2 linked regions of the Homo sapiens genome follow. The protein of the gene in region 2 interacts with the protein of the main gene of each other region in a biochemical or structural test. Each region holds a gene or a part of one and is shown on either strand. Other genes may lie near its edges.

Region 1 (4,541 bases), on a different chromosome or scaffold from region 2:
GGTGGCTTACACCTGTAATCCCAGAACTTTGGGAAGCTGAGGCAGGCTGATCAATTGATGCTGGGAGTTCGAGACCAGCCTGGTGAACTTGGTGAAACTCTGTCTCTACTAAAAATACAAAAATTAGCCAGTAGTGGTGGCAAGTCCCTGTAATCCCAGCTACTCAGGAGGCTGAGGCAGGAGAATCATTTGAATCCAGGAGGCAGAGGTTGCAGTGAGTGGAGATGGCACTACTGCACTCCAGCCAGGGCAACAGAGTGAGACTCTGTCTCAAAAATATAAATAAATAAAACATTCAGTCATGATGGAACAGGAGGTTGGATATGCCTCATTGTATCTTCTCCCTTTTGCAGTTTAGACACAACTGACCAGCAAAGTTAGAGATTATAAGACTGAGAGAATGGATTCTTTGTGGCAATAAGATAGCAAATTATAAACAAGACCGAGGGCTATAACAGGCAAAAGTTAAGTCATGCATCCCTTACACTTAAAGAATAAACTATGTTCTGCCACAAAGTTTTTTCTTTTTTCTCTAGCAGCTAAACAAGCACTGGCCTTGACAGGAACAATATTAAAACAATTACAGCTCACCCTGTGTTGGGGAACACAGGCTAACTGACCCCGTGTTCCACAAGCCATAACTACAGTTTTAATTGGACAAAAGACTGATTTCAGTAATTTTCTCCTGATAAGAGACCACTGACCATGGACTGGTTCTGGCTAGTTTACAGAAGCTGTGCATTTGAATGCCTTTGTGTCCCTGCTTCACCTTTTCATGTATAAGGCCTAACTGTAATGCAATTAAATGTTAAGTCTCCACTTCAGAGTGACCATGGGTGGTATGTAACATGCAAGCTTATTCAATATGCATGCATTAGGACCCCCTCCATGAATATTCATTGCCTCTGCTATAACCTATTGGATATGTATACTTAGCAAACCCCTTCAGCATAAATTCCTGTGTCACCTTTCCTCCTGCAAAGTGCTTGCTTTTGGTTTTCAATCAGAAGCAAAACTTCCCAGCCTGTCAGAATGGCTACCTTGCAGACTATAACCTTTCATAAGAAATAAACTCCCCTTCTAAATTTATGAATTGTGTGATTTTTTTTAGTTGACAATCTTTACATTTCGTTTTTCTGTGCATTTCAATGGATGTAAAAAACATACCTTTATCCATCTCAAAATGTAATTAGTGATTTTCCACCTTATTTACCTGCCTCTCCTATCCAGATAAAGTTTGTCAAATGTCAACAAGTAAATACGAGGCTTCAAAAGATGTACATCAGACTCTAAAAACAACTCTCAAAGAGAATTTCCAAAATATGACAGCCTCATGAAGATACTCATAGCCATAGGATACCCTCTGTCAATACTTCAGAAGGAAATCCTGGGTAGGACACATAATCACTGAACTGTTAGTTTCTTTTCAAATATCCCACTGCTTTATAATAATAACTCACATACTACCGTGACACTATGTTCAGTGTTTCTTGTTAATTTATATTTCTTGTGTTTTTATTTCTATCTAATGAGAGACAGGACTAGCTGGATTTCCTAGGCCGACTAAGAATCCCTAAGCCTAGCTGGGGAGGTGACTGCATCCACCTTTAAACACGGGGCTTGCAACTTAGCTCACACCTGACCAATCAGGTAGTAAAGAGAGCTCACTAAAATGCTAATTAGGCAAAAACAGGAGGTAAAGATATAGCCAATCATCTATTGCCTGAGATCACAGCGGGAGGGACAATGATCGGGATATAAACACAGGCATTCGAGCCAGCAACGCTACCCTCTTTGGGTCCCCTCCCTTTGTATGGGAGCTCTGTCTTCACTCTACTAAATCTTGCAACTGCACTCTTCTGGTCTATGTTTCTTACGGCTCGAGGTGAGCTTTCGCTTGCCATCCACCACTGCCGTTTGCCACCGTCGCAGACCCGCGGCTGACTTCCATCCCTCGGATCTGGCAGGGTGTCCGCTGTGCTTCTGAACCAGTGAGGCGCCCATTGCCGCTCCTGATTGGGCTAAAGGCGTACCATTGTTCTGCACGGCTAAGTGCCCAGGTTCTTCCTAATCGAGCTGAACACTAGTCACTGGGTCCACGGTTCTCTTCCGTGACCCATGGCTTCTAATAGAGCTGTAACAACCACCACATGACCCAAGATTCCATTCCTTGGAATCCATGAGGCCAAGAACCCCAGGTCAGAGAACACGAGGCTTGCCACCATCTTGGAAGCGGCCTGCGGCCATTTTGGAAGCAGCCCACCACCATCTTGAGAGCTCTGGGAGCAAAGACCCCCTGGTAACACTAATATAGAATGTGATCTCCTTTGATAAGACTAGGGCCTCACTCACAGAAGGTAGGGACTATATCTAAGTCTTACTTCAATAGCTGGAAAATCCTAAAAGATGGGAAAACTCACCCCTAATGGCCACTTGAAAGCCTGAGAAGACCTCCCTCATACTCCATTCAGAAATATTTTCCCAATCTAGATATTGCAGACATTTCTTCACTGGAAGATCTGTGTTAAGCATTGCCTTAATTCCAGGTTCTCTCCATAGTGCATATTTTCTTATATAATGTAATGTGTTAGATCATTAACAACTTCAGATGAATGAGTTTTGTGAAGCTCTCCTTTGAGAGGAGAGGGAAGATTAAGTTTAAGAACCTTAAAAAATGTTACCATAATTTCAAATCTCACCAGCCCTGTGGAACACAAAGCTCACCCCCACTTTTTCTTCTACCATTTATCCCTAAGAGTAGCTAGTCCAATGTTTTATTTAAAAAAGAACACAGAAGCCAGATAACCAGCTTCTCTTCAGACAATCCCTCTTCCCATTCTGCAAATGTCAATGCCAGCCTCTTCTCCTGAAGGATGCCTGCCCAGCCCCCCAGAGCCCTGAGTACTGCCCAGCCCCCGTTTCTAAGATCTCTCCCCAACTCTTGAAAGTGCTTTTCCTTTCCCCATCCCCTTTATCAAATCCCAACTTACACAGAGGCAGGAAGCATTGGGAGCCATCTCTGCAGACAAGGGGCCAGAAACCAGAGACAGAAAAAGGACTTTGCATGCAGCTTATATACCAGAGTTGAGTTGGAAATCCCCTGCCTGGATTGCTGTGTTTGTCCAGCTTTGCTGTGCTCTTTGTTCTTGCATGCTCCCATGAATTTTCTTTCACTTTTGCTGGGCAGGAGTTAATAGACAAAGAATGCTTTCTGATCACATACTTCTCTCCTCAAGCAATCTATTTGCAAACCTCATTCCAAACATGGGATGGTCTTTCTGTGTTGAAAACTTTTCCCTTTTCTCAGGAAAGATCTTTGTCTGTTGAAGCCACCTGGATCTATACCCACAGCCCAAACCTAAGCTGCAGATCTCTATGTCTAGCTGTGTCTGTGTCTATGGGAATTCTCGTTCCTTGAATTCCCGGCATATCCTTGAACACCCCAATCTCTCTGCCATCTCCACGCCACTGAGCATGCCTTTTCCTCCAACTCTATCCCCACCACCATGAATTTATAAGAACACACGGTGTAAACAGTATCTTCGTCAAAAAGCCTTCCCTAACTCTTTTCCTCCCCATCCTGGGTTATGTGTCCATCTTCTATCCTCTACACTTCCTTCAAATGCCTCTCAGAGCATGTTTCTTCAACAATAGCATCGTCTGCTTGTCTGTAATCTTTAGAAAAGAGTAGGAATCTTGGGGGTCGTGATTGTGTCTTAATTAACTTGTATCTTTAGCACTGTTCCAGCATGCTGTCAGGCACAGGAAATAATTTATAAATGTTTACTAAATGCACAAATGAATTAATAAATGAATGAAAAGTAAGTAAATAACAAAAAAAGGAAAAGTAATATTTGGTGAGTACTTAAATTTCAAGAACTGCACAACATATTATTAAATGTTACCTTATTTACTGTTTCAGCATTTTAATGAAGTAAGTACAGGTGCTCCTTCACTTATGATGGGGTTACATCCCTGTAAACCCATTGTACACTGAAAATATCCAAAATCAGAAATGCATTTAATACACCTAACCCACCAAACATCATAGCTTAACCTAACCTGCCTTAAACATGCTCAGAACACTTACATTAGCATACAGTTGGACAAAATTATCTAACAAAAAGTGTATTTACTACTGAAGTGTGAAATATCTCATTTAAGTTATTAAATACTGTACTGAAAGTGAAAAGCAGATGATTTTATGGGAACTTGAAGTAGGTTTCTACTGAGTATGTATTGCTTTGGTATCACTATTAAATAAAAAATCATAAATGGAATCATTGTAAGGAACCACCTCTATTAGTATCCCCGTTAATAAGTAAGAAGCTACCTCATCCACAATCATATTAGTAGTAGCTGGTAAGCAAGGGTTCAAACACTAATCTGTATTTCTATAGTCCTTGTATTCTTCCTATATTATTATGTTATTTCAGTGGGAAAAGGCAGGGAGAAAAGTGCTACTGGAGTTGGGTATTTCCAGCATGGGGTTACTGTGAGGGCAAATCTAATATACTCTCAGAAAAAACTAATTCAGGGGA
Region 2 (3,817 bases):
CCCACAATAAAATATCAGCACTTCAACAGAAAGAGAAACCGTGCCTAATGGGAATTGTGAGACGTAATTTTTAAAATTACCTAAGAATATCAGGGACTAACACCGAGAGCTTATTATAATCAGATTAAAGTCATTGTTATCAGTTCCTTGTTTTATAATCACTTCAGATCTATATAGTCCTTTTCACTATTGAAACCTTTTTTTTTTTTTTTTTTTTTTTTTTAAAGAGGCAGAGTCTCTATTGCGCCAGCTAGAGTACAGTGGTATGGCCACAGCTCATTCCAGCCTTCAACTCCTGGGCTCAAATGATCCTCTCAAGCAGCTCCTAAGTAGCTGTGACTACAGGCATGTGATACTGCACCTGGCTAAATTTTAAATTTTTTTTGTAGAGATAGGTTCTCACTGCGTTGGCCAGGCTGGTCTCATACTCCTGGGCGCGAGGGATCCTCCCACCTCAACCTCCCAAAGTACTGGGATTACAGGCTTGAGCCATGGCACCCAGCCTCAAGTAGTTTCTATGTACACTGTTTTATTTAATCATTGCCCTAATACTTATCGACGAGTTTCTATTTTTAAGTATGTAAAAGGCTAAGATGCTGGGGAACATAATAAATATCTATAGTACAGATCTGCCTTTTGAATAATTCACAAAATTTCTTACCTGCAGCCAAAAGGTCTAACAGCACTGTAGAGTGTATATGCATGCACATACATGGCCACTCTGTCTGCAAGATGCTATGGAGGGAAGCAGAAGAGCTTATTAATAAACTTCTATTACTGTCCAAAAGGTTCCTCAATATGTTATCAACTTACTTTTAGTGGAATGTTGTAGCCAAAGTTAGATCTGAAGTTGGAAGCTTCTTCTCTTGCTATGTCTGCTAAAGAACGAGCATCTGCCAACAAACCTGCTACTGCCTGAAAAAAAAGCACCAATTTACTAGAGGAACACATTCCTATCACAAATCAAAGTCTGCAATTAATAAAGACTTATTAAACATTTTTTTAACAAGTATTACCATTCAAAATAAACTTTTTTGGCTTAAAGGTCTCTCTACAAGGCATTTTGATGCTTGAGTATGAAATTATAATTTAGAAATTTAGTAAGTATAACTTCATTGCTTTGTCCAATGTTCATATTCAGGACATTTCCTTTTTTTTTTTTGATACGGGGTCTCGCTCTGTCACCAGGGCTGGAGTACAGTGGCATGATCTCCGCTCACTTCACACTCTGCCTCCTGGGTTCATGCCATTCTCCTGCCTCAGCCTCCTGAGTAGCTGGGACTACAGGCGCCTGCCACCACGCCCGGCTAATTTTTTTGTATTTTTAGTAGAGATGGGGTTTCACCATGTCAGCCAGGACGGTCTTGATCTCCTGACCTCGTGATCTGCCTGCCTCAGCCTCCTAAAGTGCTGGGATTACAGGCGTGAGCCACCGTGCCCGGCCAATATTCAGGACTACTTCTATCATAAATCCTCTTCCCCTGATTTACTACCACTACCTCATTATAACGAATAAAAACCATGGGTCTTGGTCAGATTTTTTTTTTTTTTTTTTTTTGAGACAGAGTCTCACTGTGTCACCTAGGCTGGAGCACAATGGCACCATCTGGGCTCACTTCAACCTTTGCCTCTCAGGTTCAAGGGATTCTCCTGCCTCAGCCTCCCCAGTAGCTGGGATTGGCTAATTTTTATATTTTTAGTAGAGACAGGGTTTGGTTTTGTCATGTTGGCCAGGCTGGTCTTGAACTCCTGACCTCAGGTGATCAGCCTGCCTCAGCCTCCCAAAATGTTGGGATTATGGGTGTGAGCCGCCGTGCCCGGCCCAAATTTGTTCTTTTCTCTAAAGTTATTACAGGTTGAGGATATCTAATCCAAAAATCTGAAATTTAAAACGCTTCAGAATCTGAAACTTTTTGAGTGCCAACATGACACTCAAAGGAAATGCTCAGGCCGGACCTGGTGGCTCACACCTGTAATCCCAGCACTTTGGGAGGCTGAGGCAGGTGGATCACAAGGTCACGAGTTCAAGACCAGCCTGGCCAAGATGGTGAAATGCCGTCTCTACTAAAAATACAAAAATTAGCCAGGCGTGGTTGCAGGCACCTGTAATCCCAGTTACTTGGGAGGCCGAGGCAGAGAATTGCTTGAACCTGGGAGGCGGAAGTTGCAGTGAGCCGAGATCGCGCCACTGCACTCCATCCTGGGCAACAGAGCGAGACTCCATCTCAAAAAAAAAAAAAAAAGGAAATGCTCAGTAGAGCTTTTTGGATTTTGAATTTTCAGATTAAGGATGCTCAGCTGATGAGTATATAATGCAGATATTCCAAAATCGAAAAATATCCGATATACTGCTGGTCCCAAGCATTTTAGACGAGAGATACTCAACCTGTAACTGTTTTGTTCTAAAAGGCACAATCGCAAATCTTTTTTCAGCCTATTGGCTGAATAAACTACAATGATAAACCATTCCTCTTTCAAGATTTGCGGCTTAGAACTGCAGTTACTAGGCCGGGCACGGTGGCTCATGCCTGTGATCCCAGCACTTTGGGAGGCCGAGGCAGGGGGATCACCTGAGGTCAGGAGTTTGAAACCAGCCTGGACAACATGGTGAAACCCCTACTAAAAATACAAAAATTAGTCAGGTTTGGTGGCGGGCACCTATAATCCTACCTACTCCCAAGGCTGAGCCACAAGAATCACTTGAACTCGGGAGGCGGAGGCTGCAGTGAGCCGAGATCACGCCACTACACTCCAGCCTGAGCAACAGAATGAGACTTTGTCTCAAAACAAAAACAAAAACAAAAACAGAATTGCAGTTACTATGTATGTGCCGAGAGGTCCTCAGGCACTGCAGTGAAATCACATGTTAGTGTGGCATATCTTTTTTTTTGAGATGGAGTTTTGCTCTTGTTGCCCAGGCTAGAGCACAGTGGTGCAATCGCGGCTCACCGCAACCTCCACCTCCCAGGTTCAAGGGATTCTCCTGCCTCAGCCTCCCGAGTAGCTGGGAGTACAGGCATGCGCCACCACGCCCGGCTAATTTTTGTGTTTTTAGTAGAGACAGGGTTTCTCCATGTTGGTCAGGCTGGTCTTGAACTTTCGACCTCAGGTGATCCGCCCGCCTTGGCCTCCGAAAGTGCTGGGATTACAGGTGTGAGCCACTGCACCTGGCCTAGTGTGGCACATTCTAAGTTTGGAGAAAAATGTCCAAGTAGTTCCGTTTGAACATTAGATCGTTTTACTACATTCCTTTCAATGCCACCACATCTTTGAGAAGCTTGGCTGTTAGTGGTTGCTGTGAAAAAAAGTAAGTACTGTGCAAAAATCAGTGTGGAACAGGAAATGACAGTGGCCACATCCAAATTTGGGAGGTTGTGCAGTGTATATACTAGAAATTTTGGTTGCTTAAAATAAAACATTTTAATTTTTAAATAAAAATATTTTTCACTATGTGTGTATTTAAAAAAAAAAAACGGCTACTAAGTTTTTAGGATGTAAACACTAAGTTCTTTGGATCTAAATACTTAATAAATGAAACCATTAGGTATTTTCGGCCTAGGGAAGCCATGAGAAAAACTACTGAGACACTTAAGGTACCATAAACCAACCAAGTTTTTGAAACCCTCTAGCCCAGGACAGTTACAGAATTTAAAAGTGGTATCACAATCTTTAATAGCCTTTTTTTCCTACGCTACCCAGTAATAGTAATAATGATAATTACTAAGAGATACTGAGCACTCATTACATGTTAAGCATTTTGCATAATAATTTTTAACCTCACAACAACTGTATGTGCCAAGTACTATTATCACTCTTG

The links.
Region 1: the proteins of PSMA3 (region 2) and UBD form a complex in vitro, tested with the Homo sapiens proteins (one study listed by BioGRID).

What each region holds. Positions count from the first base shown.
Region 1 is NC_000006.12:29,556,685-29,561,225, forward strand, and holds the start of UBD (ubiquitin D), read right to left. Parts: upstream 3,049-4,541; 5' UTR 3,018-3,048; coding exon 2,991-3,017; intron 1,090-2,990; exon of another isoform or gene 1-1,089. UniProt on the Homo sapiens protein: Ubiquitin-like protein modifier which can be covalently attached to target proteins and subsequently leads to their degradation by the 26S proteasome, in a NUB1-dependent manner.
Region 2 is NC_000014.9:58,254,843-58,258,659, reverse strand, and holds part of PSMA3 (proteasome subunit alpha type-3), read right to left. Parts: intron 916-3,817; coding exon 814-915; intron 736-813; coding exon 662-735; intron 1-661. UniProt on the Homo sapiens protein: Component of the 20S core proteasome complex involved in the proteolytic degradation of most intracellular proteins. This complex plays numerous essential roles within the cell by associating with different regulatory particles.